Homo sapiens: one gene and its partner. The protein of the gene in region 1 interacts with the protein of each later gene in a pairwise test. Each region holds a gene or a part of one and is shown in the gene's direction. Other genes may lie near its edges. The genes, in order: GMPPB and TXNDC5.

Evidence for each region.
Region 2: the proteins of GMPPB (region 1) and TXNDC5 interact in a two-hybrid assay, tested with the Homo sapiens proteins (2 studies listed by BioGRID and IntAct).

The regions. Positions count from the first base shown.
Region 1 is NC_000003.12:49,714,992-49,728,076, reverse strand, and holds GMPPB (mannose-1-phosphate guanylyltransferase catalytic subunit beta), read left to right. Parts: upstream 1-4,125; 5' UTR 4,126-4,350; coding exon 4,351-4,479; intron 4,480-4,604; coding exon 4,605-4,685; intron 4,686-4,774; coding exon 4,775-4,823; intron 4,824-4,962; coding exon 4,963-5,105; intron 5,106-5,322; coding exon 5,323-5,481; intron 5,482-5,566; coding exon 5,567-5,645; intron 5,646-5,718; coding exon 5,719-5,846; intron 5,847-5,929; coding exon 5,930-6,112; coding exon of another isoform or gene 6,113-6,193; coding exon 6,194-6,325; 3' UTR 6,326-6,771; coding exon of another isoform or gene 6,772-6,892; 3' UTR 6,893-6,971; coding exon of another isoform or gene 6,972-7,057; 3' UTR 7,058-7,182; coding exon of another isoform or gene 7,183-7,277; 3' UTR 7,278-7,423; coding exon of another isoform or gene 7,424-7,566; 3' UTR 7,567-8,161; downstream 8,162-13,085. Other genes in the region: IP6K1 (inositol hexakisphosphate kinase 1), read left to right, coding at 422-955; AMIGO3 (amphoterin-induced protein 3 precursor), read left to right, coding at 8,612-10,126; E3 ubiquitin-protein ligase RNF123, read right to left, coding at 6,772-6,892, 6,972-7,057, 7,183-7,277, 7,424-7,566, 11,600-11,684, 11,900-11,975, 12,067-12,255, 12,363-12,502. UniProt on the Homo sapiens protein: Catalytic subunit of the GMPPA-GMPPB mannose-1-phosphate guanylyltransferase complex. Catalyzes the formation of GDP-mannose, an essential precursor of glycan moieties of glycoproteins and glycolipids. Can catalyze the reverse reaction in vitro.
Region 2 is NC_000006.12:7,894,380-7,909,377, reverse strand, and holds part of TXNDC5 (thioredoxin domain-containing protein 5 isoform 1 precursor), read left to right. Parts: intron 1-4,654; coding exon 4,655-4,804; intron 4,805-9,696; coding exon 9,697-9,802; intron 9,803-14,175; coding exon 14,176-14,272; intron 14,273-14,998. UniProt on the Homo sapiens protein: Protein disulfide isomerase of the endoplasmic reticulum lumen involved in the formation of disulfide bonds in proteins. Can reduce insulin disulfide bonds.

The DNA.
Region 1 (13,085 bases):
GTGCTGCCACTTGCATGATTTGGGTTGTGCTCATACCTGCCTGCCATCTATGCCAAGTGTGTCCTCCTGAGCCCCTCTGTCCTTACCTGTTGACTTTGATATGGGCCTCAGGTGCAGGACCACTGTGAGAGTCTGCTGCCTCGACATTGGGACAAATAAGACTCTTGCCTGTCAACAAGATGTTCCGATGTTGGAGGAGGGCTCCAAAGCTGGGGGCAGGGAACCCATAGGCCTGGTATTGCTTTCTCTTGGTTCTGCAATGGGAAAACCCAGGGTGAATGTGGCCTGCCTGGTTCCACTTAGATAGGTGAGCAGAAAAGCTCAGGTTGGTCAAAGTCCCTTCCAGACAGTGTTTGCCCAGGGCACTGTGAGCTCTTCAGACTTCCCTGGCACTCACCCTGTCTGCCTCCTGGGGTTTCAGGTGTACCAGCTGGACACAGGGCATTACCTCTGCAGGAACAAGTACTATGGCCGTGGGCTCTCCATTGAAGGCTTCCGCAATGCCCTCTATCAATATCTGCACAATGGCCTGGACCTGCGACGTGACCTGTTTGAGCCTATCCTGAGCAAACTGCGGGGCCTGAAAGCTGTGCTGGAGCGGCAGGCCTCTTACCGCTTCTACTCCAGTTCCCTGCTTGTCATCTATGATGGCAAGGAGTGCCGGGCTGAGTCCTGCCTGGACCGCCGGTCTGAGATGCGTCTCAAGCACCTGGACATGGTGCTCCCTGAGGTGGCGTCATCCTGTGGCCCCAGCACCAGCCCCAGCAACACCAGCCCCGAGGCGGGTCCCTCCTCTCAGCCCAAGGTGGATGTCCGCATGATTGACTTTGCACACAGCACATTCAAGGGCTTCCGGGATGACCCCACCGTGCATGATGGGCCAGACAGAGGCTACGTGTTTGGCCTGGAGAACCTCATCAGCATCATGGAACAGATGCGGGACGAGAACCAGTAGGCCCTGTTCTGGGCCCCCAGAACCCCTTCCTCTCCACTGCAGGCAGGGACCATTGTTCTGAACTTGCCGTGAGGACACACAGACTTGCTTTTAAAGGGTTATATTTCTCTTTGGTGTAAACTAAAAGAAATGTTTTTAGCTGTAGCCTGGAATCCATATATATAAAGTGAAGGAGGGCAGACCACACGCCCTCTCAGCCAGGCTCCTCAGCTTTGTGGCTCTGACTGGTGTGTCCAGGCTGCCTTAGGAAGGAAGAGGTGCCCCTGGTGGGCTTGGCAGCAGGGACAGGGTGCCCTTGGACATTGGTTTCTCTTGTCTAGATCTTTGAGATCTGTGGCTGCAGGGCCCTGCTGATTGTAAGGTAAAGCCCTGGGCTGGTGCAGGGCCCCTCCACGCCCACTCTTCCCTTGTTCCCCAGAAGTAGAGGGCTCTGGGTGCCCATTTCTTGGGGGCTTTCCAGTCTTATGCTGTGGGTGTCAGCTAGCTCTTTAATAGGTGCCCTCAGGGCACCACAGGGCTGACTGCACAAAGCTGGACCCATCCTTCGGTCTGACCTTAGCATGGGGCTAGATTAATGAAGCTGGGCTGAGGCCAACTTATGGCAGAGGGCGGCGCCTGGGTTCCCCAGGCACCTGTTGGCACGTGACAGGTTGGCACCTGTCCTATTCCTGAAACAGCCTCTCTCACCAAGTTCCCTTGCCTAAGAAGGCCACTCCCTCCCACCCCACTGAAGTGGGGGATAGTCGGTGTCCTAGCAGGCCTCAGGGCCTCTGGTGGCTCTGGCCCAGACAGTATTTGCAGTTCTTGTGCTATGGGTGGGAGTCTTCTTCCTCAAGTTTCGGCAGCTGTGCTGCTGCTGGATGGGCTGCTCCTCCCAGGGCTCAAGGGCTGTGGTCCGCTCAGGGTCTCATTTCCCCAGGCCAAGTTCAAGGCAGCAGCCCTTTGTGAGGCGCTCTTGGCCCTGGGCCTGGAGGGAGAACTTTAAGCTTTTTTGCTCACAGGGACGTGGTATGGGCCCTGGGTGCAGGTGCCCACATTCTGCTAATGAGAGCTTTGTCTGATCAGTCCTGGGTCCATCAGTTTGTCCATGTGTCCGGCTGCCAGCCCGTCCCTTGGGATCCTTCCCCTGGGGTGTAGCCTTGTTCATTAGTATATACTCATTCCTTCATGCTTTCCTCAGCAGAACACTTCCACTTCTGAGGTGAGCTTTTGCCCCATGCCCTTCCTCCACAGGTGTTGCCTTTTTATAAAGACCTGATAGCAGAATAAATTGGTGTTTCCCTGTTGACCCAGCACCATTTCTGTGGGCCTAGAATATGGCCCTCAACCCTTAGAGTGGGGCAGTGAGGGCTTGAGGAGTGACCCTTCCTTTCTCATGGTTTTAGTCATTTTGGCTGCCAGCCCTTAATGGCACAGATCTGCTGCTTCTAACAGATGGCCAGGAGGTGACACCGATTTCAGCCATTGCCAAGGTTAGCACCCTCTCCTTTGAGCCTAGGGCCACACTGTTCATTGTCACTTTAGGCAAGTGCCTGTTTGGCTTTAAAGGTAAGCCTGCCAGCTGTGAGAAGCCTTGGTAACTGATGGACTCATTTCCTGGTCCTTAAAGATGCAGCCTCTTAAGGGCTCCTTGATGGATGCCATCTCTCCTAGCCCCCAGCCCTGGTGCCACTGGTGGGCAGGTTCCCATTCTTTGGGGCTGGGAGGGACAGCTTGCCTGTTTCTGGTCACAAATTACAGTCTTCTCTCCTGTACCATTCTGTGGCTTCAGCCATGGGGGCAGTAGCCCTTCATTAGTGTAGATAGTCATTCCCTGGTAGGGTGGAGGGTAAGACATAGGGTCTGGAACTGTTTGGGACCTTTTGGGGATGTCCTGTGCCTCCCAGATTCCTCGATTCTGGGAGGAGAGGCTGCCGCATTCTGCTGCTCCTCACAGCGAGCAAAGCTGCACCCACTTACATTCAGTATTTTCCTGGCACTACAAAGAGTGGGAAGGCCTGGGATTTGCTGCTGCTCCCTTAGAGCAGGGCCCCTCTTTTCAGCACTTTGGACACCTGGAGACCCAGCCCTGTTATTTAATGGTAGTGGGCAAGTGTGTGTGCATACTGTCTGCCACTGCTTTCTCCCTGCCCCATGCCAGAGAGCCCTGTCCCTGCCAGGCCCAGCCTTCTTAGCCCCAACTTGGGAACAAAGTGCAACATGGGATCATGGGTTGGGGTGCTCAGGTGAGCCCTCTCTATAGTGCTTCCCTGGGCCAAGCTGACACCAGCCCCTGAGGGTGGGGTGGGACGGGTGGTGCTTAAAAGAGGAAGGGGACCAGTGTAGCAACTTGCCAGGGACCCCACCCCTCCCTCTCTGGGCCTGTGCAGTGAGCATGGGGATTCCCATCAAGGGGCCTGGCACCTGTGCTAGTTACGTAGCCGCTGCTCACGCGCTCACTCCTGACCACATGCACGTTCCCTAGATGCAGACTGCTTTGAACTTTAAAGCTGTACAATTTGGTTATGTTTGTGCTGACTTAAAATATATTTTAATGAGGAAAAAATAATGGAGAACCCTGGGAAGGACCTGGTTCTTTTGCTTCTCGGGGAACTGTAAGCCCTCGCGTTCTGGGAATCGCTCTCTGCTGCTCTTTCCTGGAAGCTAAGCCTGTCTCCACCGCCCGAGGCCTGCGCCGGTGGCTCCCGCCGCAGTTGCGTTTGCTTTGGACCTTGCGTGCGGGGGAGGGGGTGCTCGGTCCGAGCCCGCTCCTTTCTGTACACCTAGCGCTGCCCGCCCCGCTTGTGTCTGAGGTCGTGTATGTCAAAAATAAAGCCGCTAGAAACGGAGGCGAGTCTGTCTTTGTGAAAATCCCGTGGCCCGGGAGCCTTCCCTGGTCACCCTCGGGGCGAGGCCGGGGCCGTGGGGCGGGGCCGGCGGCTGCTGGACCGCGGCGAAGCAGGGAACAAGGCCTCGCCCTTGGCGCCAGTTCCGCCTTTGGATCCGCCAATGGCCAGCTGACCCGCGGGTCCCGGCCCGGGTCTCCATGGCAGCCCGGCGTACTCGGGCGCTCATTGGCTACGTCTGTCGCAGCGCTGCGCTCCAACGTTCCGACGCCGGCGGCCGTGCCACGTACGCGGCAGCCGATTGGCCCGCGGTGGTCGCGTCACTGCCCGCGCCGGGTCCGGCCTGAGTTCGGGGCCAGCAGCCGTCTACCCGGTGTCGCGTTCTGTGTTGTGGCGGCCCTGGATCCGGCGTCAGGGCGACCGGGCGGACGAGGTGGAGCCAGAGTCTGTCAGGCGGGTTGGTGAAGGGCGCGGGGCCGGGCACGGCGTTGGGAGTGCGCGGCAGGGACCGGCCAGGCGGGCTGCAGGCACCTCAGAGCCCGGGACACCCCCTCAACGTCCGCAGGCGCGATGAAGGCACTGATCTTAGTGGGGGGCTATGGGACGCGGCTACGGCCGCTGACGCTGAGCACCCCGAAGCCACTGGTGGACTTCTGCAATAAGCCCATCTTGCTGCACCAAGTGGAGGCGCTAGCCGCGGTAAGACCCTGGGTCGGGATCAGAGTCGCGTTCGGATCTGGCGGGACTAGGGATGGCCAGCGACTAGGGGTCAGGGGCTCCCGTACCTTCTGACTGAGCCCGCCCGTCGGCCTGCGTTCTGACAGGCAGGCGTGGACCACGTGATCCTGGCCGTGAGCTACATGTCGCAGGTGCTGGAGAAGGAAATGAAGGCACAGGAGCAGAGGGTGAGGCACAGACTCTTGGCCCTTATTCTCGGTCCCCGCCCAACTTCCCATCCTGGTAGAACCTGACTGGGGGGGCCTCTTCCTTCCAGCTGGGAATCCGAATCTCCATGTCCCATGAAGAGGAGCCTTTGGGGACAGGTCAGTAGAGGCAGAAAGGTCCCTTGGGGGAGGGTTTAAGGCCAGGAAAAGGGTAAGACCCAGCCTGGAGTGGGCCTGCTGAGCCTGAATCCAGGGACTCAGACCTCCAGCAAGGTGGTGACCTGTCCCCTTCCCCCAGCTGGGCCCCTGGCGCTGGCCCGTGACCTACTCTCTGAGACTGCAGACCCTTTCTTCGTCCTCAACAGTGACGTGATCTGCGATTTCCCCTTCCAAGCCATGGTGCAGTTCCACCGGCACCATGGCCAGGAGGGCTCCATCCTGGTAAGGCGCCAGGTCTTCTCTCTCTTGACACTTTCACCCTCCATGCCCAGCCTCCCATGCCCCCTAGCCTTCATCTGCCTTCGGATGTTATGGATACAGAGCTGTGCAGTATGTATCTTTAAGCACTTGGGGCAGAGTCTCTTGAGATCTGGAACGGCATGTGTATCAAGGCTTAGGAACACTGGACTAGGTCCGAGGTCCCCTTCCTTGCATTCAGGTGACCAAGGTGGAGGAACCCTCCAAGTACGGTGTGGTGGTGTGTGAGGCTGACACAGGCCGCATTCACCGGTTCGTGGAGAAGCCACAGGTGTTTGTGTCCAATAAGATCAACGCAGGCATGTACATCCTGAGCCCTGCAGTGCTGCAGCGCATCCAGGTGTGTAGGAGACAGCTGTTGGTGGGCTGGGGTGGGGCAGGCCATCACCGCCATGACCCTGCTCACAAGCTGCCCACTCCCACAGCTGCAGCCTACGTCCATTGAGAAGGAGGTCTTCCCCATTATGGCCAAGGAGGGGCAGCTATATGCCATGGAGTTACAGGGTGAGGCAGGGAGGCCACAGGGTGGGGGTGGTCTGTGGCTGGGCTGAGGCCCCTGATGCATCCCTCCCTACAGGCTTCTGGATGGACATTGGGCAGCCCAAGGACTTCCTCACTGGCATGTGCCTCTTCCTGCAGTCACTGAGGCAGAAGCAGCCTGAGCGGCTGTGCTCAGGCCCTGGCATTGTGGGCAACGTGCTGGTGGTGAGGCCCTTGCCCAGCCCATCATTAACCCCCTCAGTCTTGGGAGACAAGTGGCCCACTTGTATTTTTCCCACCGCTCTCAGGACCCAAGTGCCCGCATCGGCCAGAACTGCAGCATTGGCCCCAATGTGAGCCTGGGACCTGGCGTGGTGGTCGAAGATGGTGTGTGTATCCGGCGGTGCACGGTGCTGCGGGATGCCCGGATCCGTTCCCATTCCTGGCTTGAGTCCTGCATTGTGGGCTGGCGCTGCCGCGTGGGTCAGTGGGTAAGCCTGTGGGCTGGGCTGGGTGGGGAGAGGGGCGGGGAGTGTGCCTGCCTCCCTGACAAGGCCTATCCTCTCCTGGAGGTACGCATGGAGAACGTGACAGTGCTGGGTGAGGACGTCATAGTTAATGATGAGCTCTACCTCAACGGAGCCAGCGTGCTGCCCCACAAGTCTATTGGCGAGTCAGTGCCAGAGCCTCGTATCATCATGTGAGGGGATGCAGTGGGGCTGGCCGAGCCCCGGTTTTCCCATCAGCAAGGGGAGTGCTGGCCTGACACATCAGAAGACCCTGGACTTGTCATTATTTGTCTGGGGGGCACTGGGTGAAGCTGAAGCTGTTGGACACCTGCCTTCTCATGTGGACATCATCTGGCAGGATCCCTGCTGGGCACACCCCACAAACCCCACTCCCTCAAGAAGGGCCAGGGCCAGGGCTGTATGGAATAATAATTTAATGCTCACTGTGGCCCTGACTGAAAGTCAAGCTCAGGCACAATTAGGGCCATGGCTGGGCTCCCACCAATGAGGATACAGGCAGGCAAGGAGGTTGGATGTGGTGGTGTGGGATACAGGAGAAGGGCAAAGGGAGCTCATAAATAGGGCCCAGCCTGGCTCTGGGTTCAAAGGTGGAGGTTCCAGGATGGCACAGGCTGTGAGGGCTAGGCAGCTGAGGAGGTAGTACTCGTATTGGCTCCCTTCTCCCAGTCCTCTACAGACACGATGGTGGTTTTGCAGAAGAAGCAGTCCTTGTTGTTCATCAGGTGCTGGTTGATACAGGCTCTACAACAGGGGAGGGGATGAGGACTGCCCTGCATGTACCTACTGCTCTCCCCACCACCAAGCTGTGGGGCCCACTTACTTGCAGGACTTGTGGCCACAGGGCTGGAACACAGCAGAGATGGGGTGGGCATAGCAGATGGGGCAGAGGTCCTCCTCACTGGTGGGCTGCAGGGAGGAGAGTGAAGGGTGGGCTGGAGTTGGATGCCTGGCTATGTGGATGTCCGTTGTGCCTGTGTAGGAGTGCACACATATTCAAGTGGCATGGACCTGTGCACCGTGTTCCCACTCACCAGGGAGGCAGCTGCTGCCTGGGCAGATGCAGAGGTCAGGTGCGCCAGCATCTGTTCCACTTGGGCCAGCTCATCGGCACTGATATAATCCGCATCTGGGGAGTGGTAGGTAGTGTCAAGTCAGAGGTAGCTGAGGATGTGATGCCTCTTGAATATTCCCAGCCTAGGACTTTGCTGTTCTTAAGGCTCCTGACCCGACCCAGCCCCAGATTTCCCTGACCTGCCCCACCAGCCCACTCACAGCTCTGCAGGGAGAAGCGCTTCCGGTCAGGGGCTGGCAGAGCAGTGCCAGGTGCTGGGGGCTCTGGCTGTCCCAGGAGATAGCATATTGAGCGTAGCTGGAAGCAGGGATCTGCCAGGAGCACTGATGTGGCTTGCTCTCTCCTAGGTAGGGGAGGGTGCAAGGGCAGTCAGAAGGCTTGGGGCCTGGCTAAAAGTCTCTCTTGGGATTGCCAATGAGGAGTGCCATGGCTCGTACATGATCACCCCCCCTGCATCCTTTCCGTCTCCCTGCTTCCCAAACCCCAAGTCCTGTATTCTAGTAAGGTGCCACACAGCCTGTTTTTTTTTTTTTTTTCTTGAGACGAGTCTCGCTCTGTTGCCCAGGCTGGAGTGCGATGGCACGATCTCGGCTCACTGCAACCTCCACCTCCCGGGTTCAAGTGATTCTCCTGCTTTAGCCTCCCGAGTAGCTGGAATTGCAGACGCCCACCACCACGCCCGGCTAATTGTTGTATTTTTAGTAGAGACAGGGTTTCACCAGGTTGGCCAGGCTGGTCTCGAATTCCTGACCTCAGGTGATCCACCTGCCTTGGCTTCCCAAAGTGCTGGGATTACAGGCGTGAGCCACCGCGCCCGGCCTGGGGTACCACTTTAAGAAGGCTCAGGCGAACCACCTTAAGATAGTGAGAGTCTGCCTGCCCCATAATATTATCAGTCCTTCAAAGTCACTTCAAATAAACACTAACAGCAGCTTGGAGACATTCTTCCAGACTCCCCCTTTTACTCCCCGAGGAAAAACGAGCGGCGGAGAGCTGCCAGCCAAAGGCTGACGGGGACTTTGGGGTTGGCCTTGCTCCCCATCTGGCGGTCATGCGGGGCCATTGGGCACAAAGGGATGTAGCCGCCCCGCCTCCTCAAACGGGAACCAATAGGAGCCCGGGCCCCGCCCCTGGGGGGAGTATTTAGGAGCCGATCAGGAACTCGCTTGGAGAGGGCTAGCGAAGCCGAAGGGAGCGCGGCTAAGAGTGCCGCACCGCCTCACAACCTGGGAACCGGAGAGTAGGGGCCGTCGGCTGGCAAGAACCCGCCGTGCCTCCTCGGCAAGGGCCATCCGGTGCCACCCATGTCGCACTAGAGCAGAAGAGGGTGAGTCCTGGAACTGCAACCTGCACAGAGCTGCTCTGTACTGTCCCTGGTGGTCGCCGCCATGACCTGGTTGGTGCTGCTGGGGACACTGCTCTGCATGCTGCGCGTTGGGTTAGGCACCCCGGACTCCGAGGGTTTCCCGCCCCGTGCGCTCCACAACTGCCCCTACAAATGTATCTGCGCTGCCGACCTGCTAAGCTGCACTGGCCTAGGGCTGCAGGACGTGCCAGCCGAGTTACCTGCCGCTACTGCGGACCTCGACCTGAGCCACAACGCGCTCCAGCGCCTGCGCCCCGGCTGGTTGGCGCCCCTCTTCCAGCTGCGCGCCCTGCACCTAGACCACAACGAACTAGATGCGCTGGGTCGCGGCGTCTTCGTCAACGCCAGCGGCCTGAGGCTGCTCGATCTATCATCTAACACGTTGCGGGCGCTTGGCCGCCACGACCTCGACGGGCTGGGGGCGCTGGAGAAGCTGCTTCTGTTCAATAACCGCTTGGTGCACTTGGACGAGCATGCCTTCCACGGCCTGCGCGCGCTCAGCCATCTCTACCTGGGCTGCAACGAACTCGCCTCGTTCTCCTTCGACCACCTGCACGGTCTGAGCGCCACCCACCTGCTTACTCTGGACCTCTCCTCCAACCGGCTGGGACACATCTCCGTACCTGAGCTGGCCGCGCTGCCGGCCTTCCTCAAGAACGGCCTCTACTTGCACAACAACCCTTTGCCTTGCGACTGCCGCCTCTACCACCTGCTACAGCGCTGGCACCAGCGGGGCCTGAGCGCCGTGCGCGACTTTGCGCGCGAGTACGTATGCTTGGCCTTCAAGGTACCCGCGTCCCGCGTGCGCTTCTTCCAGCACAGCCGCGTCTTTGAGAACTGCTCGTCGGCCCCAGCTCTTGGCCTAGAGCGGCCGGAAGAGCACCTGTACGCGCTGGTGGGTCGGTCCCTGAGGCTTTACTGCAACACCAGCGTCCCGGCCATGCGCATTGCCTGGGTTTCGCCGCAGCAGGAGCTTCTCAGGGCGCCAGGATCCCGCGATGGCAGCATCGCGGTGCTGGCCGACGGCAGCTTGGCCATAGGCAACGTACAGGAGCAGCATGCGGGACTCTTCGTGTGCCTGGCCACTGGGCCCCGCCTGCACCACAACCAGACGCACGAGTACAACGTGAGCGTGCACTTTCCGCGCCCAGAGCCCGAGGCTTTCAACACAGGCTTCACCACACTGCTGGGCTGTGCCGTGGGCCTTGTGCTCGTGCTGCTCTACCTGTTCGCCCCACCCTGCCGCTGCTGCCGCCGTGCCTGCCGCTGCCGCCGCTGGCCCCAAACACCCAGCCCGCTCCAAGAGCTGAGCGCACAGTCCTCAGTACTCAGCACCACACCGCCAGACGCACCCAGCCGCAAGGCCAGCGTCCACAAGCACGTAGTCTTTCTGGAGCCAGGCCGGAGGGGCCTCAATGGCCGCGTGCAGCTGGCAGTAGCTGAGGAATTCGATCTCTACAACCCTGGAGGCCTGCAGCTGAAGGCTGGCTCTGAGTCCGCCAGCTCCATAGGCTCCGAGGGTCCCATGACAACCTAGACTGCCCAGGGCTCCCCCACCCAGGCCCCCACCCTCTTGCTGCTCGCCCTGCTCCCTGCTTCGGTCCAGAGAACTGGCAGATACTGGTGGGAAGCACTGTGCCTGGCCCCCCAGCTTCCTGTATGGGCCTCGAAACACAATGGGCCTTCTCGCTCACTGGTAGAGACAGGGGTTGTGGTCCCCAACCTGCCTTCTGCTCTGCCCCTGCACAGGACCCAAAGGCCCCAGGCCCTGCAAGGTGTGCTAGTTCCTGCTTTCCCGCGGACTTCCTAGTGCCCAAATGCCCTGTGAGGCTGAGAGACCCAGGCCCCTGTGGCTTTCAACACAGCACAGCTGTGGAAGTGGCTGTGTTCTTCTACAGCCTGTGGAAGAACCCCTGTAGCAGAGCCTCCCGTCCACCCTCAGGGGCTGAGACAGCTCTCGAGGAGTGGTGCTCAAGAGCTGACGCAGGGCCACCTCCCCTTCCCAAGGGGGTGGGAGGGAGTGGGCCCACAGGGAAAAGAAGGCGGCTCTGAAGGAAGATCTCGCCCACACCCCAGGACAGAAAGAGGAAACAAGCCCGCCCTCTGGTGAAATGGGACTCCCTCCATCCACCAACACCCAACCTCCTGAAAGCTTCACAACTTCACGCAGAGTCCGGTGGGCAGGCACCAGGCAGGAAAGGCTCCTCAAGAGGTTCCTGGTGGTCTGGCCTAAGCCCCAGCCAGAGGCCCTGCTCTCTCTGGCCTGGGGCATCCACCCGTTGTTCTGAAGGCAGAGCCCATTCTGTGGGCTCACAAGACACAGTGAAGGGGATCATGGCCTGCACCCCTGCTTTTCAGCAGTAAAAAGCCCGAAAAGCCTGGCGAGCATGGCCGAGCTGGGAGGGCCGAGCCGGAACTCCACGTCCCTCGAGAGCAGGAGCCTCTTAAGGGCTGGCACTGGTCTCAGCCTAATGGCTGAGGCGGTACCCTGGCTTCATATGCATCTCACTGCTCCCACTGCAGGGGGGCAGGGAAGGGGGGTCTGGGAGCCCTTCATGTGTGGGGGCCGAGCTGGGGGCCCCCATGGCCATCCTGGACCTCGCTGCTCCAGAGTTTAATAAAGGTAGCACATGCTTATTGCTAGAGCCTTTGCAGACAATGGCGGTCCTCCGTGTGTTCAGCTCTCCTGGCGGCCTGGCCCTGTCCACCACAGGACGGCACACCCTCCGGAGTCCTGCCTCCCATGCCTGGCCTGAGGCATGGCCACAAGCCAGTGGCTCTGTGGGCCAGGGCCACCTGTCCTGCTGGGGTCCCAGATTCTCCTACTTAGAGCAGCTCCGTCTGCCCCCTATTTAGGCCGTTCACACCTCACCACCTTCCCTCTGCCTCAAAACCTGATGCTGAGGTCCATTTTCCAGATGAGGAAACTGAAGTACCAGGAGGCCCTGTCCAGCCCCTCCTCACCAGACACACCCAACTCCCACAGGGGCCCACGGTCCCCAACACTCACTCTGAGGCTGGGCCACGCACCAGGAGCTGCACCAGGATGCCCGTCACTGCCACCAGAATGGGATAGTGGTCCACGCTCTCTAGGCCTGAGGGGAAGGGGAGGAAAGAGATGAGCCACCCACATGCTCCTGCTTCAAGGGCTCCAGGCCTGCCCACTGCCCTCTCTACAGAAGGGTGAGCCGAGACTGCAGAGCACCAAGTCTGGCTGTCCGGGGGCAGAATGTGGAATCAGGCCTCACTGTTCCTAGCAGAGGAACCGAGGCCTGTAGTGTGTTGGGGTGCAGGGCATCTAGGTCCTCACCAGGCAGCCGTAGGGTGACCACACGATCAAACAGGTTCCTCTCAGCTGTCACCCGGTTCAGCACCTGGTTTAGCAGCTGTGAGGGGAGCAGGAGTCCATTGGTGGATGGGGAGCGTCATCAATGGGGCATCCCCAGGGTCCCACCCTTGTTGCCCAGATGGCCACACCTGTGCAAGACGCCGCAGCAGCATCTCAGAGGTAGGCCGGGTCCAGTCAAGGAATATCTCAGGCACCAGTGTGATAGTCATCTCCAAGACACGCAGCAGGCTGACCGAGAGGTCAAAGCAGGTGGCACATACCTTGAGCTGCCGGCTGTCCACAAAGTTCCGCTCCAGGCGCTCAGCAGCCTGCTGGATCTGAGCCACCAACACGTGGGCATGCAGTGGTCAGCACCTGGCTCTAGCCCAGGACCAGGCCTCATCCCTTGCACCACCCTAACCCACGAGGCCCCACCACAGCCCACCTCTTGGATCATGCCAATGAATTCAGAGAAGGCCCAGTTGAGCTGATTGAGGACGCTGTTGAGGAAGCTGGGTGCCACATCAGGACCCTGCTGTAGGAGGTCCGCCATGTGCTGCTGCAGCAGGGTGGAAGGGCAGGGCTCTGCAGGGGGACAGGAGGCGGCATCATCAGGGACTCCACTGCAGTGGCCTCTGCCTGTTTGCCTCTGTCCTCGCCCATTGAGGCTTTGGTATAAGGACAGAAAGATGGCTCCCTAGGAATGCTCAGGTCATGAAAGCAGGGGACAGAGGACAGCTGCCTTGGAGTTAGTTGGGACAGAATCTGTCCCCTCCTTCTACTAGGCAAGCCCCAGGCTGCAGCTGTGTCCAGCCCTGACACCACACCATCCACTCCAGGTCCAGAGCAGCCACACAGCCACAGCCTGACCCTCAGCAAGTTCTGGGTCGCACACCCTTCAGATAGGGTCAGACCTAAACAGGGCGGCTTAGATGCTTCCCCACCGGCACCAAGGCCAGCTCCTCCAAGAGCCTACTCTAAGCCCTGCTGCAAACCTGCTGTCCTCTACTGTCCTCTGCTGCCCTTGGCCTGGCCTTGGCATATGGCCGAGGTGGTGGGCACCAAGTCTGGGCTGGCAGGCAGCAGTAACCGGAGCCCTCAGCTGCAACGGGCCTGGCGCACCTCCCCACCAGCTTGATACAAATCAATAGTTCCCGCAGCAGCAGGA
Region 2 (14,998 bases), on another chromosome or scaffold:
CCAGAGCAGAAAGCCATAATTTTAGGACACAAGACCTTTGAGAGGTTGGAATAGCCTGCAGGTTCTTGTTGCAGAACTTGGTATTCTTCCCCAGAGCTCAGTAGAGGCTCACTTGGGAAAGGGATGTAGGGAGGCATAGAGAAAAGGTACCCTAAGAAAAATGGCCAGTTCAGAAATTGTACCTTTCAAACTGGGAGAAACGTTTTTCTCTTAACCTTGTATTCAGGCTATTACTGCGTTTCAGTTCATTTGGAGTTAAATCAACTTTTAGGGCCACTGTGGGTTTATTAACAATGTGTATATGAAGTACATTATGTTTCACATTCCTAAGAACCAACTGACTCGAATTTTTACAACTCCAATGGTTTAGAAATTACTTTGTAACATAAAACAATCAGGCAGTATTAACAGTTTCTCTTTGTTCGGGAGTATTCTCAGCAACTATTTCAATTAAGTGTACTACTTAATTGGAGCCTATTTCAGTGGAATACATCTGTCGATGGGTTTTCTTTTTTCTTTCTTCATTATTTATTTATTTTAGAGATGGGATCTTGCTCTGTTACCCAGCCTGAAACCAGTGGTACGCAGCCGCAGCTCACTGTAGCCTCTAACTCCTGGGCTCAAGTGATTCTCCTGCCTCAGCCTCTGAAGTAGCTGTGACTACAGGCGCAGGTCATCACACCCAGCTTATTTTGTTGTTGTTGTTTTTGTTGTAGTTGGTAGAAACAGGGTCTCGCTATGTTGCCGGGGCTGGTCTCAAACTCCTGGCCTCAATCAGTACTTCTGCCCTGGCCTCCCAAAGTACTGAGATTACAGGCATGAGCCATCGCATCCCATTCTTTACTTTTTTTTTTTTTTTAAAGAAAAACTGACATGCAGATGTAATAAGTCCCCACAGTGCCAAAGGAATTTTAAGTTTAGAATCTTTGCAATAAATACCAGCTAGTCCTGGGCTGAGTGAGAGAAAACTGGCACATCTGGGCACTTGGTATTAAGTAAATTCCTTTTCCATTATATGTGGCTTGTAGACATTTAGCTGGATGCTTCCAGAATAATTAGCTTTATGTTGTTACTTTTTTTTTTTTTTTTTTTTTTTGAGATGGAGTCTTGCTCTGTTGCCAGGCTGGAGTGCAGTAGCGCAATCTTGATTTACTGCAACCTCCACCTCCTGGGTTTAAGCGATTCTCCTGCCTCAGCCTCCTGAGAAGCTGGGACTACAGGTGCGTGCCACCACGCCCAGCTAATTTTTGTATTTTTAGTAGAGATGGGGTTTCACCATGTTGGCCAGGATTGTCTCGATCTCTTGACCTCGTGTTCTGCCCGCCTCTTCCTCCCAAAGTGCTGGGATTACAGGCGTAAGCCACCGCACCTGGCATATTTGTTGACTTCTTGATAGTCTACTACAAATACTTAAACAGAGATATGTGGGTTTCTATGATGGTGTTTAAGTTGGACTTTTAAGAGGGCCCTTTCAGAAAACTGCAGATACTGCAGTAGGGCTCACGAATAGGCTGCCAGGAAAGGAGGCTGAGTGGGCGGCGAGTCAAATGGGAGGTCAGCAGGGGCAAGATCAAGTAGGACCAACAATACCTGGCACAACACTTTGGTAAGTTGTAAGGCTGAGAGCAAGGTGGTGACTCTGGAGGGGTCTATGCAGGAGAGGGAAGGAGGTCCTGGAGTGGTGAGCTGAGCGTTTGGAGCTCAGATAGAAGACTCAGTGGACTCCCCCTCAACACACACATACCTTTTTCCAGTTTCAGCTGCCGTGGAGTGGTGAAAGCCCACGTGTGATTAAGGGGCTGGGGCCCCTGTAACAAAAACATCAATCTGTGTATTTTTGCCCTGCACTTGGCTTCTGCAGGGTTATCCTGCTGCTGTAGATTTTTTGCCAACATCAGGTCACAACTTCTGTATGGCCAGTTTGTGAGTCACCCTGAACCTGGTGACAGTGAGGTCAAGATTTGGACCAGGTAGCTTTGCTCTACTTCTTGGCCACAGGCTACCTTCTGAGTGCAGCTGCCTGTCTCAGAGTTGGGTGCTGTAGCCGCAGGGCCGACTAGATAGCACCTGTGGCCCCATCACAGCCAGGAGCAAGGGCACGCCCAACTTGGTGATGGCCCAGAATGGTCAGTTTTGATTTAGCGCACCACAAACTTATTTATTGTTTATTCTCATTCTTAATCTAATCTTGTGTTTTCTCAAAAAAAAAAAAGGGAAAAAAAAAGCAGTAGCAAAACAAAACCTTGTCAAGATTGCAGAGGAGTTCTAAAGTTCCAGAATGAGCATATCTGATCAAAGTCCCCTGAAGGTCAGAACTGCCCTTGACAGTCCCTTAGGAAGGTGCCTTGTTGGACACCGCCCCAGTCAGTCAGTCAGTCCCCACTGCCAGCGTTTCCTCCAGCATTAGAACTATCATGGCTTCTTTGGTTAAACACCAAATGGACTAGTTCTCAAACCTGTGCCTTTAGACAGCAGGGTCACACTTAATGTAGTCGGAGAGATGCTCATGCCATGAGAAGCATGTAGGAACCAAGGCCTGCTGAGGAACAAAAACCTCACATCTCCCAGCTTGCACACACTTCAGGGTTCTGTGGGAATTGCCTTTTTTTTTTTCTTGTTTCCTTCTCCCCCGCCACATAAACTCACTTTGTTGAATCTACAGAAGTTAAATCTGCATGTATAGTTTCATTGTGCTTTTTTTTTTGTATCTGAGTATCTCATAAAGCAGGGATTCTCTTAGCTGGCCAAGAAAGTGCTGTTTAGGGAAGACACATTAACTTGAAGCAGACTTTTTCAGTGCTACCTTTAAGTCTGTTTTTCTTTTTTTTTTTTTTTTTTTTTTGAGATGGAGTCTTGCTCTATCGCCCAGGCTGGAGTGCAATAGCATGGTCTCGGCTCACTGCAACCTCCGCCTCCCGGGTTCAAGCGATTCTCCTGCCTCAGCCTCCTGAGTAGCTGAGATTACAGGCGTGTGCCACCATGCCCAGCTAATTTTTGTATTTTTAGTAGAGATGGGGCTTCACCTTGTTGGTCAGGCTGGTCTCGAACTCCTGACCTTGTGATCCGCTTGCTTCGGCTTCCCAAAGTGCTGGGATTATAGGTGTGAGCCACCACACCCGGCTTAAATCCTTTTTTTCTTAAGAGACAAAATCTCTGTCACCCAGGCTGGAGTGCAGTGGTGTGATCATAGCTCGCTGCAGCCTCAAACTTCTGGCCTCAAGTGATCCCTCTGCCTCAGCCTCCCAGGTAGCTAGGACTGCAGGTGTGTGCCACCACACCAGGCTAATTTTTTAAAATTTTTTGTAGATGGGGGTCTCACTGTGTTGCCCAGGCCAGTCTTGAACCCCTGGGCTCAAGCAGCTCTCCTGCCTTGGCCTCCCAAAGTGCTGGGATTACAGGCATGAGCCACTGCTACCGACTTAAATGCTTATTTTTGAGGTAATCTGTCAGAAAATAAAAGGAGATTTAACAGATTATTAAATTATTTTGAGGAAGAAGTCACAATTCTAAGCGTTGAGTGTTCATATAAGCAAGTGTGTTTAAAAAAAAAGCATTTTAAAAAGCGATACAGCAAAGTGGTTACATTGTAGGCATCAGTGTGTTCCTGCCATATTAAATAGCAAACAAACCCATGTGTCATAATGCTATGGGATTGTAGTTGAAACCTGGGATAAAGTTTCTAGGGTTGTCTCATTCAAAATTCGAGTATGGCACTGTAGACATACTGTCCAGAGAACACAGCAAGAGCTGTGGTCAGCTGTATGACTTAAGGTCTAGTGTTGGGAAAGATGCTGATATCCTCATGAAATGTGAAGCATGGCAAGAAGCCTAGTTAAGATACTATTTTAAATGATGGGTGATTTTAAAATATTTATACATAACTGAATTCATACAATGAATACTAAGAATAGACATTTGCTTACTTCAACCCTAGAAGTATAGGTGGCCACAAACTTTTTTTTTCCCCTTCTCATTGGAGAAAATTGCAGGTGATTAAATTTTGAGATTGCCTTATGTTTGTAGCCATTTGGTTATATAGTGGAGGAGACTTGACGAATAAAAGTAGCAGATACAGCAGGAAGTGCTAAGCTACTGTCCAAGGGAGGAGTAGAGAGGCTTTCCAGAAGGGCAGGAGAAGAGAATGGGTGCTGAACAGCCCGGGGAGTCAGGGCCAACTTGCTAGAGGAAGTGACACCCAAACTAAACCTGAAGGGCAGATAGATTTAGCTAGGTGGAGTTTAGGGACGAAGTGTCAGAGAGAATGTGTCCCAGGGCCAAGCCAAGCTATAGTCCTTTGGGAACACTGCAGATGCTGCAGTAGGGCTCAGGAGTAGGCCACAAGGGAAGGAGGGTGGACTCTGGGATAGAAGTCAAGCGGGAGGTCAGCAGGGCCAGAACAACTAGGATCCAGAACAACACTTTGCTAAGTTTAATACTGGAACAAGGCCAAGATTTCATGCTGAGAACAGGGCAGTGACTCTGGAGGGATGGGAGCAGGGGAGAGAGGTCCTGGAGTACTGGTCCAGGAGCTGCCATCTGCAATGGTGTAAAGAAAGGACTGAGAGCCCCATTGTCCCCTGGACAGAGCTGAAGTTGTGGGCCAGCTGCCCTGTGACCTGATACTCAATGTGCTTGTACTCTTGCCTTGTTCCAGGTGTGGACACTGCCAGCGGCTGCAGCCGACTTGGAATGACCTGGGAGACAAATACAACAGCATGGAAGATGCCAAAGTCTATGTGGCTAAAGTGGACTGCACGGCCCACTCCGACGTGTGCTCCGCCCAGGGGGTGCGAGGATACCCCACGTAAGTTGGAAGGAAGGGGGCACACTTCCTAGGTGGCTCCTGGCTACAAAGAAAGTCCTAGTTAAACTTTTGGTAAAGGTGTGAAGAGATACTAAATTTAAGCAGGCAGTCCCTGTCATTAGGGAGAAACTGCATTTAATGCTGTGTCTGTTTTAGATGGCTTTTATACTTGGATAACCTTTAATTCATCAGTGTTGGGTTTTCCTGTTTATAAGAGAATGTGTTTGCAAGAGAAAAATGACGGTCCCGCCATGCTAGATGTTCACCGGTACATTTTACACAGTGTGCATGGACTGTCATCAGTTTTGGCTTGCTTTTGCTGGTGACTTATTCGCAAACACCCTTCCTATAGTTCCTTCCCGTGTGACTCCCACAGGGCTGTTCCTGTTGGAAAGAAAGTATAGAGTCTGACAGACGATGATACTTACTTCCTTGACAGTTAAGAATTTTTTTGGTTATAAGAAATAGAAATTGAAATGTTCTCAATTCTAGAAATAGAATTGTTCTCTTATTAAACAGAAAGAAAGGACTATTTAAAAGGCTGTGGAGGAACCTCTGAGAGCCAGCTCCAGGGGCCTGGGGTCTGTTTCTCCTGCACCTCCCTTGAGATGACGGCTTTCCAGGCCTGTATCTCTGTTTGCACAGAAGGGCCCACCACTGACTGGCCCTGCTTGGCTGGAATGTTCGTTCCAGGAATAGTCACTGTGGCCAGGGAAACAGGAGCTTATAGCAAGACACATGCCCATTCACACCATGTGCCAAGTGTTGGAGGGAAAAGCAGTTCTTCAAAAAAGAGAAGAAGCTGTTTCTGAAGGAGGTGGAGGGATTGCCACGGTCACTTCCTTGCTGTTTGTTTCAATTGAGGAATGAAGTCAATTCTATACAATTTATTGCTTAATTGAATAATATAGGGGTCCATCAATAAAGCAAAAAATTGGAGCTTATATTCAAACCTGGGAGGCAGAAAAGTGGAGGGATCTCCAGGCTTGAACCTAGAAGTCGTAGTCAAATCCCAGCTCTACCATTTACTTACCACCCAGCTCTGACCTCATCACTTAACCTGTAAGTAAGGTGATCCCCCAAACATTGTTACAGGACTTACATGGAATGTGTGCAGACACCAATCTGAGCACACCCAATACATGTTAGGGTTTTCCCTACCATTTGGAAATGTGGGCGTTTCCACAAAGGACCCTGGAATTCTTGGTCTTTGGTGACTGCTTGCTAATGTAAGTGCCATAATTTGGGTTTACTTTAAATCAGATCAATGGAGATAAAATTGCTTACTATCTGTATCTACGTAAAAGCATTAACTATTCTATGCTTTATAGTATTGCATTGAAAGTATGGATCAAGAGCATCCCAAAGAAGCAGGTAGTGAGCAGAGATGAGGGCGAGGAGGTGAATGCTTACCTGTTGAGAAACTGTTGCTTTCAAAGTTCAGGGGCAGCAGGGGTGAGCTGGCTGTGGTGTCTTTCCTCTTAACCTGCTGACCATCTGTGGCCTGAGACTATGTGCATCACACACCATGCCACAGGGAAGGTGACACAGGACCTGTAATGGAGCTGAGAGTGGTATGTGTTATGGGGCTTCAGAGAAGGAAGTGAAGGCTTCCACCTCAGCCTGGCCATAACAGCTGTCAGCTGCAATATCAGCTACTCCATAGTTGGTATTCACCAAAAACCATCACAAATTTAAAAAGTCACAAATGTAAAAAGTCACAAATTTAAAAAGGCCCATGTTGGATCATGTGTTTAGATTTTTAATGAGAAGAGCTGGTCTCCCCAAGTAAACCATGGCTGGTTTTGTGTTATTAAAAAGAACAAAAATGAACGTACACCACACTGAACACAGTTTGGGAAGGAACCTCTGTGACCATCACTGCCCTGCAGAAGCTCCAAGAACAGATTATTTTCCCCCCGAGAATGCAGGAGGTGGAATGTGCTGTGTGCAATGTGGTCGCACTGGGGCATCTGTAGATTGACTTGAGCGAGCTTTGACTCCTCTAAGACAAGTGCCCATCCCATAGAGTGGTTGTGAGGCCCGAGGCAGGTGACGACTGTACCTGCCTGAGTCCAGGCATGTGTCAGGACATGAGCTTTCACGTTATTCTTTCCTGGCAAGTGTAACTGGAGTAAAGGATTGGAGGGGCAGGGAGTTTGGGCTCCCACGCTCCCTAGAGATGGCTGGCTGTGCTCAGGAAAATGTTTTGAGGTCTTCCTGTTGGGCCAGTCATGAATCATTACAGCAGGGCAGGACTGACGGGGGGAACTACCTGTGTTAGTTTCCTAGGCTGCTGTAACAAAGTTCCACAAACCGGGTGGCCAGAAACAATAGAAATGTATTCTCTGCAGTCCTGGAGGCCAGAGGTCCTAAATCAAGGAGCCAGCAGGGTCATGCTCCCTCTGAAACCTGTAGGGGAATCCTCCCTTGCCTCGTCCTGGCTCCTGTTGGTTTCCTGGTCATCTTTGGCGTTCCTTGGCTTGTAGATGCATCACTGCCGTCCTCTGTCCTCACATGCCCTTCTCTCTCTGTGTGTGTGTGTCTCTCTGTGTCCAAACCCTTCTTACAAGGACACCAGTCATGCTAGATTGGGGCCCATCCTAGTGACCTCATTTTAACTTGAATATCTCTGTAAAGACCTTATTCTAAATAAGGTCACCTTCTGAGATTGATGGTTATGACTTACACAGATCTGTCTTGCAGGACACAGTTCAACTGATAACACTGTCTACGGTAGTAGAACTTTCATCATGCTGTTTGCCAAGGCAGTACCTACATGGGGATTTTCTCCCTGCAGTCTCCTTGAAAAAGGAGACTCAAATGCCCATGTGGAGGCTTGGTAATAGCGGAAATCTGGGGCAATACTTTGTTTGGGCTTGTACCCTGTGGCCCAGTCTCCATCACCTCCCTCACCCCTGTCGACAGTGAGAATTGAAGTCAGATGTCCCAAACTCACTGCAAGGTCTGGACCAGAAGTGTCCGCTCTGTCCCTGGGCTCTGTGAACTTACCGAGGAAGAATCTCAGACTTCCTGGGCAGGTTAGAACGATTATCAGTCCAACAACAAGAAGATGGTTTTTTTTAAATTATTTGTTTTGCAAATGAATAGCAAATTACAAAAAAATCATAGGCTAGGTCTTACTGTATTTTACTTTTAGCAAAGACACAAGTGTGACCGTCCCTGGTCCTTTCTGATGTCTTGAGGATCCACCCATTTCCCTTCCTGAAGAGCGTTAGCGGGAGGCAGAGCCGTGCAGGAAGCAGTTTCTGTTTCCAGGTGCGGAACACACCTTGTGGGAGCCTGGGGAGGTGCCAGGCTAGGTGAGGGCAATCATCTTTGATACCGCAGATGTTGCAGTTGCTTATCATGTTGAACTTCGTGACGTAGCCGGTGTACTGGCCAAATCTAGTTAAGTTTTGGCTGTTTTTTGTGGTTATGAGAGTCTGAGCTGCTGAGGAAGCTGGGTGTATATTCTGCACTGGAGACACATTAGGGACCCTACCTATGCCCCATCATACCATCTTAGGTTCTGGGTAAGGCCAGTATGCTGATACTAATTTCAAAGCCTAATCTAGCCATGTGACTTCATTTTAAGGAGAATTAGCCATTTTTTTTTGGACTGAATGTGTGTGTACCCCAGCATTCATAGGGGAAATCCTAATCCCCAATGCTGGCAATAGGAGGTGGGGCCTTTGAGAGGGAGCAGGTTATTAGGGTGGAGCTCTCATGAATAGGGTTGCATACCTTATGAAAGAGGCCCCAGAGAGTTCTGTTTCCCCTTTTGCCATGTGAGGGCACAGCAAGAAGACACCATCTGTGAACCAGAAAGCCCTCACCAGACACTGACTCTGCTGGCACCTTGATCTCAGACTTCCCAGTCTCTAGAGCTAGGCGAAATAGATTCTGTTGTTTCTAAGACACCCAATCTGTGGTCTTCTGTTACAGCCGTTGAACTAAGACACTATTCAAACCTTCATGTCAGATTTTACATATGTTGCCGTCTTACAATTCTGATACCGTACATTGGGCATTTACTCACAAAATCCACATACGCGCTGTAGAAGTGGCAGGGGTGTTTAGATGAGCAGGCTTGCTAACAAATGGTACTCTGTATTTCTTTTTTCTTCTATTGGTAGTCACATTTTTGCCTATCCTTGACACCTTCTATGAATTTTTATCTAGAGTATTAGAGCACGTTTTCCCGTGACTGCTGGAGGGATACAGGAACTGAGTGTTAATTTCATCCTCTGGTGATGTCTTTTGCTTATGGTTAAAGGACCTACTCCCGTATCCTCTCTGCAGATTCCTTCAGAGGCCAACATTTGTAGGAAAAAGAAAAGATTCCTTCTCTATGGGAAGGTGAATGGACAGCATCAGTCAATGTCAAGGATGTTCTTATAGCTGGAAACTTGAATTCTCACAGTAACTGGATATTCAGGCCTTGTAAGAGTTGAATACCTGCCAGGTGGCCTGGAAGAATACCTTAATTGCAAAACAACACCGTGTCTGCTCCAGTCCTAATTTGAACACAGACAACAACTGCTGAAGCCGGGAAAGCATAACAGTAGCTTGCAGGGAAGGCCCGAGGCTGCTGCAGAGGAGCACTGAGTACTGTAGCTTTTGAGGCCTCAGTCACAGCAGCGGGCTGGAAGTTTTCACCTCATTTTAGTTTTCCTTGAATAAAACCAGAAACTTCTGAAAGTTTAGGATTAACTGAATGTATTATCTCCTGGAACGTTATGTTTGTTTCCTTTTTATCAGAGAGGAGCAGATACATGCCTGGCTGCAGCCCCTTGACAGCTCATTTTCTGATTGTTTCACTAAATGAGTTTGCTCTCTGATAAGACAACTTTCTTTTTGCTCTGTCTAATCCTTTGTTATTCTTTCAGCTTAAAGCTTTTCAAGCCAGGCCAAGAAGCTGTGAAGTACCAGGGTCCTCGGGACTTCCAGACACTGGAAAACTGGATGCTGCAGACACTGAACGAGGAGCCAGTGGTGAGTGTCTACCTCCTTCCCTCCCTCCCTCCCTCCCTCCCTCTCTCCCTGCCTACATCTTTGGGGTAATATGTAACGGGGCAGAGGCCAGTTGAGGTTAATGATTAAGGCTGCCATTTTAAAGCAACTCTACTTTTTTTGGAGCTTATTGGTATTACAGGTAAAGATGAACTTTTACAGAAACTTTTTGGTGTGGAAATACCTAAATGTGCACAAAAGTCAAGAGAAGGCTAAACCCTGAGTTTCAGCAGTTACCACCATTTTGGTGTTTGTCTTCCCCACCACCCTGCGCCTTGTTTGGCTGTAGTCAGTCTTCAGGGAAGTCACTTGTGTGGCCTCACAGATAAGCACTTACTCTTTGTTAACACTGCCACCCTGCCACTGTCACAGGTAATACAGTTCACAACTGTACCCCAGCATCAGAGACTGACTCTGGACCACCTGGGGTCAGGGCTGGGCCCAGCCTAGAATCTCCTATCCAAGCCAGCACTGGAGCCTCCTCCCATCCCCCCGACCTTTGCCCTCCACCACCTGCAGCCCTCTGGCTCGGGCCTAGCCCGACAGCTGTACCCGTAGGGTGGATCCTTCCTTTTCTTCTCGGTGCTCAGTCCCCGAGTCTCTAATGGGCTTTGCTTATAACATCATTTTGTACCATTAATACTCTGTGTCTTAATGCACTTCCCTTACTAAGGCTAATATCAGGAGATTGTAGACTCTTAGAATATTATGTACTAAAAAGGATTTATAATCCTCCCCCTCCCCAGTTGATGTTGGAAGTCTTCACTTTTTTATAAATCATCATGATCATAAACCACTGGTTAAGTGTTCCTTTGTGGGTGGTGCCTTCTGATTAATGCCGAGTGCTCAGGTCCCTGGATGCCGGGTAGACCTGGTGGGTCATGCTGCTGTGTTGGAGAGGGACTGGAAAAACACTCGTGTTCCTACACTGTAGGATCCTGATGAGCTAGGAAGAGCATCTGAAGTCTTTGTAATTTCAATTTCAACAAATACCTAAGACTACCTTCTTGTATCAGCTAAGCGCCCACTGATTTGAAGGTGGTCTGTGGTGGTCCTTTTGGAGCTTTGCCGCTTACTGTTGCCAGTTTCCAGTGTGTCTGTGCGGCTCTTCCGCTCTGCCCCATCTTCTCTGATGACCTAATCAGAAACTTGGCTGCTGATTCAGTGCTTCCATCCCTCACCTGCAAAGACTCTCTCAACTCGGCTGGGTGTGGTGGCTCATGCCTGTAATCCTAGCACTTTGGGAGGCTGAGGCGGGTGGATCACCCAAGGTCAAGAGTTCAAGACCAGCCTGGCCAACATGGTGAAACGTCGTCTCTGCTAAAAATACAAAAATTAGCCAGGTGGTAGGTGCCTGTAATCCCAGCTACTTGGGAGGCTGAGGCAGGAGAATCACTTGAACCCAGGAGGCAGAGGTTGCAGTGAGGCGAGATCATGCCACTGCACTCCAGCCTATGCAACAGAGCAAAAACTATCGTGGAAAAAAAAAAAAAACTCTCTGAACTGTATGGTGGAGACTGTTGGTGTGTGATGTTATGTCGTTGAACCAGAGACTTACCTAACTTTAGCTAAAAGAACCACAGACCTCTCAGGAAATTTGCATCTTTGTCCTGGCAAGAAAGCTGAATGAGCAGGTGTGACTTTCATAGTTTTCAATTGGACATTGTTTCCTTTGTGAAAATATTCTCTTTGTGGGGACACATATATTGGATGGTAGCAAACCAATTTTAAGGAGGAGTTAATAGCCTCAAATAAATTTCACCAAAAAAGCCAGTCTTCTATGATGGCTTTATTCAAGAAACCAGCAGCCAGTATCAGGACGGCAGAAAGACCTCATCTCATGGCCCATTTCCCTTAGTGGAGGTGGCGGCCTCACCTGCAGGTTGGAAAGGGCTGAGAGGCTGCGTCCAGGCTCTGCAAGGGACTTTCTGTCTCCTCAGTGTGGGAGCAGGATGGCCGCGTGTAATCCCCCCATGCCACCCCAGAACCACAGTCACCAACTTGCCATATTTTAGTGTCTCCAGCAATAGCAGGCCCCAGATAATTGCCAGAAACAATGACAATGCGCCTTATTGTGGAAAAGTTTAAGTATATACACTTTATACTGCAAACCAGAATTCTCTTAGCTTTTTAAGTGAAAACTTTAAAAAAAGTTCTTTATCTGTATACCTAAGTAACTTAGTACATACATTTTTTAATATTCACGTGGGATAAATTTAGATTTTTTTAAGTGTTGTGGCAATATTCAAGAAACTCAAAAGACAATTTGTCACTTTGTACATTCTACTGCAATTTTTGTATTTCCATGTTTGCTTCTGTATTTTTTCTTGAACAGTTATACAAACATGTTTCATCTCATTAATGATTTTATATATTTATGTGGTCTTTATGTTGATCATGTCTTATATTATTTTATCATGTGGATTTGCCATAATTCAACTCTAATTCTGTCAGTGGATATTTAGGTTATTTATACCTTTTCCATCATCAGTAATGATGTAGGGAACAAGTTTATCTTTGTAAAGGACTTTCCACCCCCCCTTCTTTTGAGTGATATTTTTAGAATATAGTATTCCCAGACATAAAATTATAAGGCCAAGAATAAAAAAAAAGATCATTTTTATGGCTCTTGATGAATATAGCCAGGTTTCTTAAGCACCATATCAGCTTATGCTGCCACTGTAGGGCAAGACGTGACCTGTTTCTGGGATGCACTGTGGTGTTCCCATGCCGGGGGACTGCTCTGGAGTCTGCCAGGAACCCAGGAAGCAACTAGAGGCCCCGCATGTGCCATAAATGAACACTTCATACTGAAAGGCCCTTGAACATCTCATGGAGAGTGGCACACGGTATTTTATTTCACCTTATGTGCACCCATTGACTGTTCACTTAGCCATTCTTCCCTTGGGCATTGTTTTGTGTGGGTATTTAGCACTTTGAAAGTCTTGACGCGCTGGCAGCAGAAGGGAAACTTTGTGGTTCTTTATGATTCCAGCCCTGCACAGCTTTGAACTGTCAGCACCTTTAAAGCCTTTAACAACTTAGCTTGGATATTCTTTTTAATAGGAATATGAACCCCCAGATAAAAGCTGAGTAATATACACTTAATGTGTCTGCAGCAGAACACTGATTCCATTATCTTTCCCTCATTTCTGGTTACTTTGGTTGGAAGCCACAGCTGTACCTGGTCTGAAAAGTTGAGAAATGTAGGATTGTGACTAGACAGCTGCACACATTGCTGTCTGCTTGGGTCCTGGCAGAAGCATCTTTTGAAAAGCCCCTTTCCCCCTCTTTCTGTATGAGACTTAGTCATATGAATTACATTCTTTCTTGAAGGTGCAGCTTATGTTCATGCCATGGTTTTCTCTCTGTTGCCTTTCATTCACCTGCATTTTCCTTCTCATCACCTCCTTTTCTCTCTGATCAGTCTTCCACAGTTGTGTCTTCCTCACAGTTTTCCCTGTCATTTGTGTAAAGTAAGGATAACCAGGCCTTCCTGGTCCCTGAGTTTCTCATTCTCAGCTTTGTCCATTTTGCTACCCTCGTGTCTGTTTGTGTGTTTTTTGAGGAAGAGTCTCACTCTGTTGCCCAGGCAGGAGTGCAGTGGCATGTTCTCAGCTCACTGCAGCCTCCACCCCCTGGGATCAAGTGATCCTCCCACCTCAGCCTCCCAAGTAGCTGGGACCACAGGCGCACGTCACCATGCTCAGGTAAATAAAATTTTTTTTTTGTAGCGATGGGGTCTCACTCTGTTGCCTAGGCTGGTCTTGAACTGCTGGGCTCAAGCAGTCCTCTTGCCTCAGCCTCCCAAAATGCTAGGCTGTCACCTAGGCTGGTCTTGAACTGCTGGGCTCAAGCAGTCCTCTTGCCTCAGCCTCCCAAAATGCTAGGGTTACAGGCACGAGCCACTGCGCTGGGCACTCTGGTGTCTGCAAGTGCTGACCCCTTCAGAATACGTCCATTGGGCGTTGTATTTTGTATTCTTTGTGAAGTATCCAAGTACGTTTCAAAGAAGAGGACAGGGTATAGGGTAAGACTGTCCTTTGCATTGTCTGCTTTGTTTGGTTGGGTTTTGGGGTAGGGACAGCTATCACTTGGCTGCCCTGGAGACTCAGACCTAGAGCTTTCACTGAGGGTGAGGCTGACGAGGGGGCTTTTTGCTGAAGCTTCCAGAGGGCTTGACGAGATCAGTTCCTGACCTGGCCTCACTCAGCACAGCAGCATCGTACAAGGGTTCCAGGTTGTTGGGTGAGGGAGGCATCTGCAGGCGGTTCCCCACAGACACAGTCACCTCCTGGATGGTTTCCCTGTGTCTCCACTGACACACCCATGACTGTTTTATTTCCTCCTGTTAGACACCAGAGCCGGAAGTGGAACCGCCCAGTGCCCCCGAGCTCAAGCAAGGGCTGTATGAGCTCTCAGCAAGCAACTTTGAGCTGCACGTTGCACAAGGTAAGGGGGACGTCCTGATGCCAGCTTCAGAGAATCACTATTATTCCTTGGCGTGCTGGGCTTTTCCTTCCTGCTACTCAAGGGCTCTTAGATAGCAGCATCAGTGGCACTGACAAAGGGTCACTCTAGAGGAGCTGTTGGGACCGTTGTTCAGTGCACCTCCTCTAAAACATGAGTTCTCCTTTTGTCTGTGCCCTTATAGAAACGCCGAGTCTAATGCTAAGCACACGTGACCCGCACACTAGCTGGACAGTGCATCCTTGGCTAAGAGTGTTTATTGACAGACTCACCTCGCTTGATTGCTCTTTACTTTATTGCACTTTGGAGATACTGCATTTTTTTACGGATTGAGGATTTTGGCAGCCCAGCATCTGGCAGGTCTAGCGGTTTTTCCAGCAGCTTGTGCTTACTTTGTATCCCTCTGTCAGCATCTTTTTAGCAATAAAATATTTTTTAATTAAGGTACATTGTTTTTAAAGAAGTAATGCTGTAGCACATTTCATAGACTATAGTGTAAACATAACTTTGATATTCACTAGGGAACCAAAAAATTTGTGTGACTTGTTTTATTGTGATATTATCTTTATTGCAGTGGTCTGGAACCAAACCCACAGTATCTCGGAAGTATGCCTGTGTATTAATGATAATCATATGCTTAATGACCTCAGGCAGAAACAAAAGCTTCTCTCTGTCTAAACAGAATTTAGATTGGGCACAGTGGCTCAT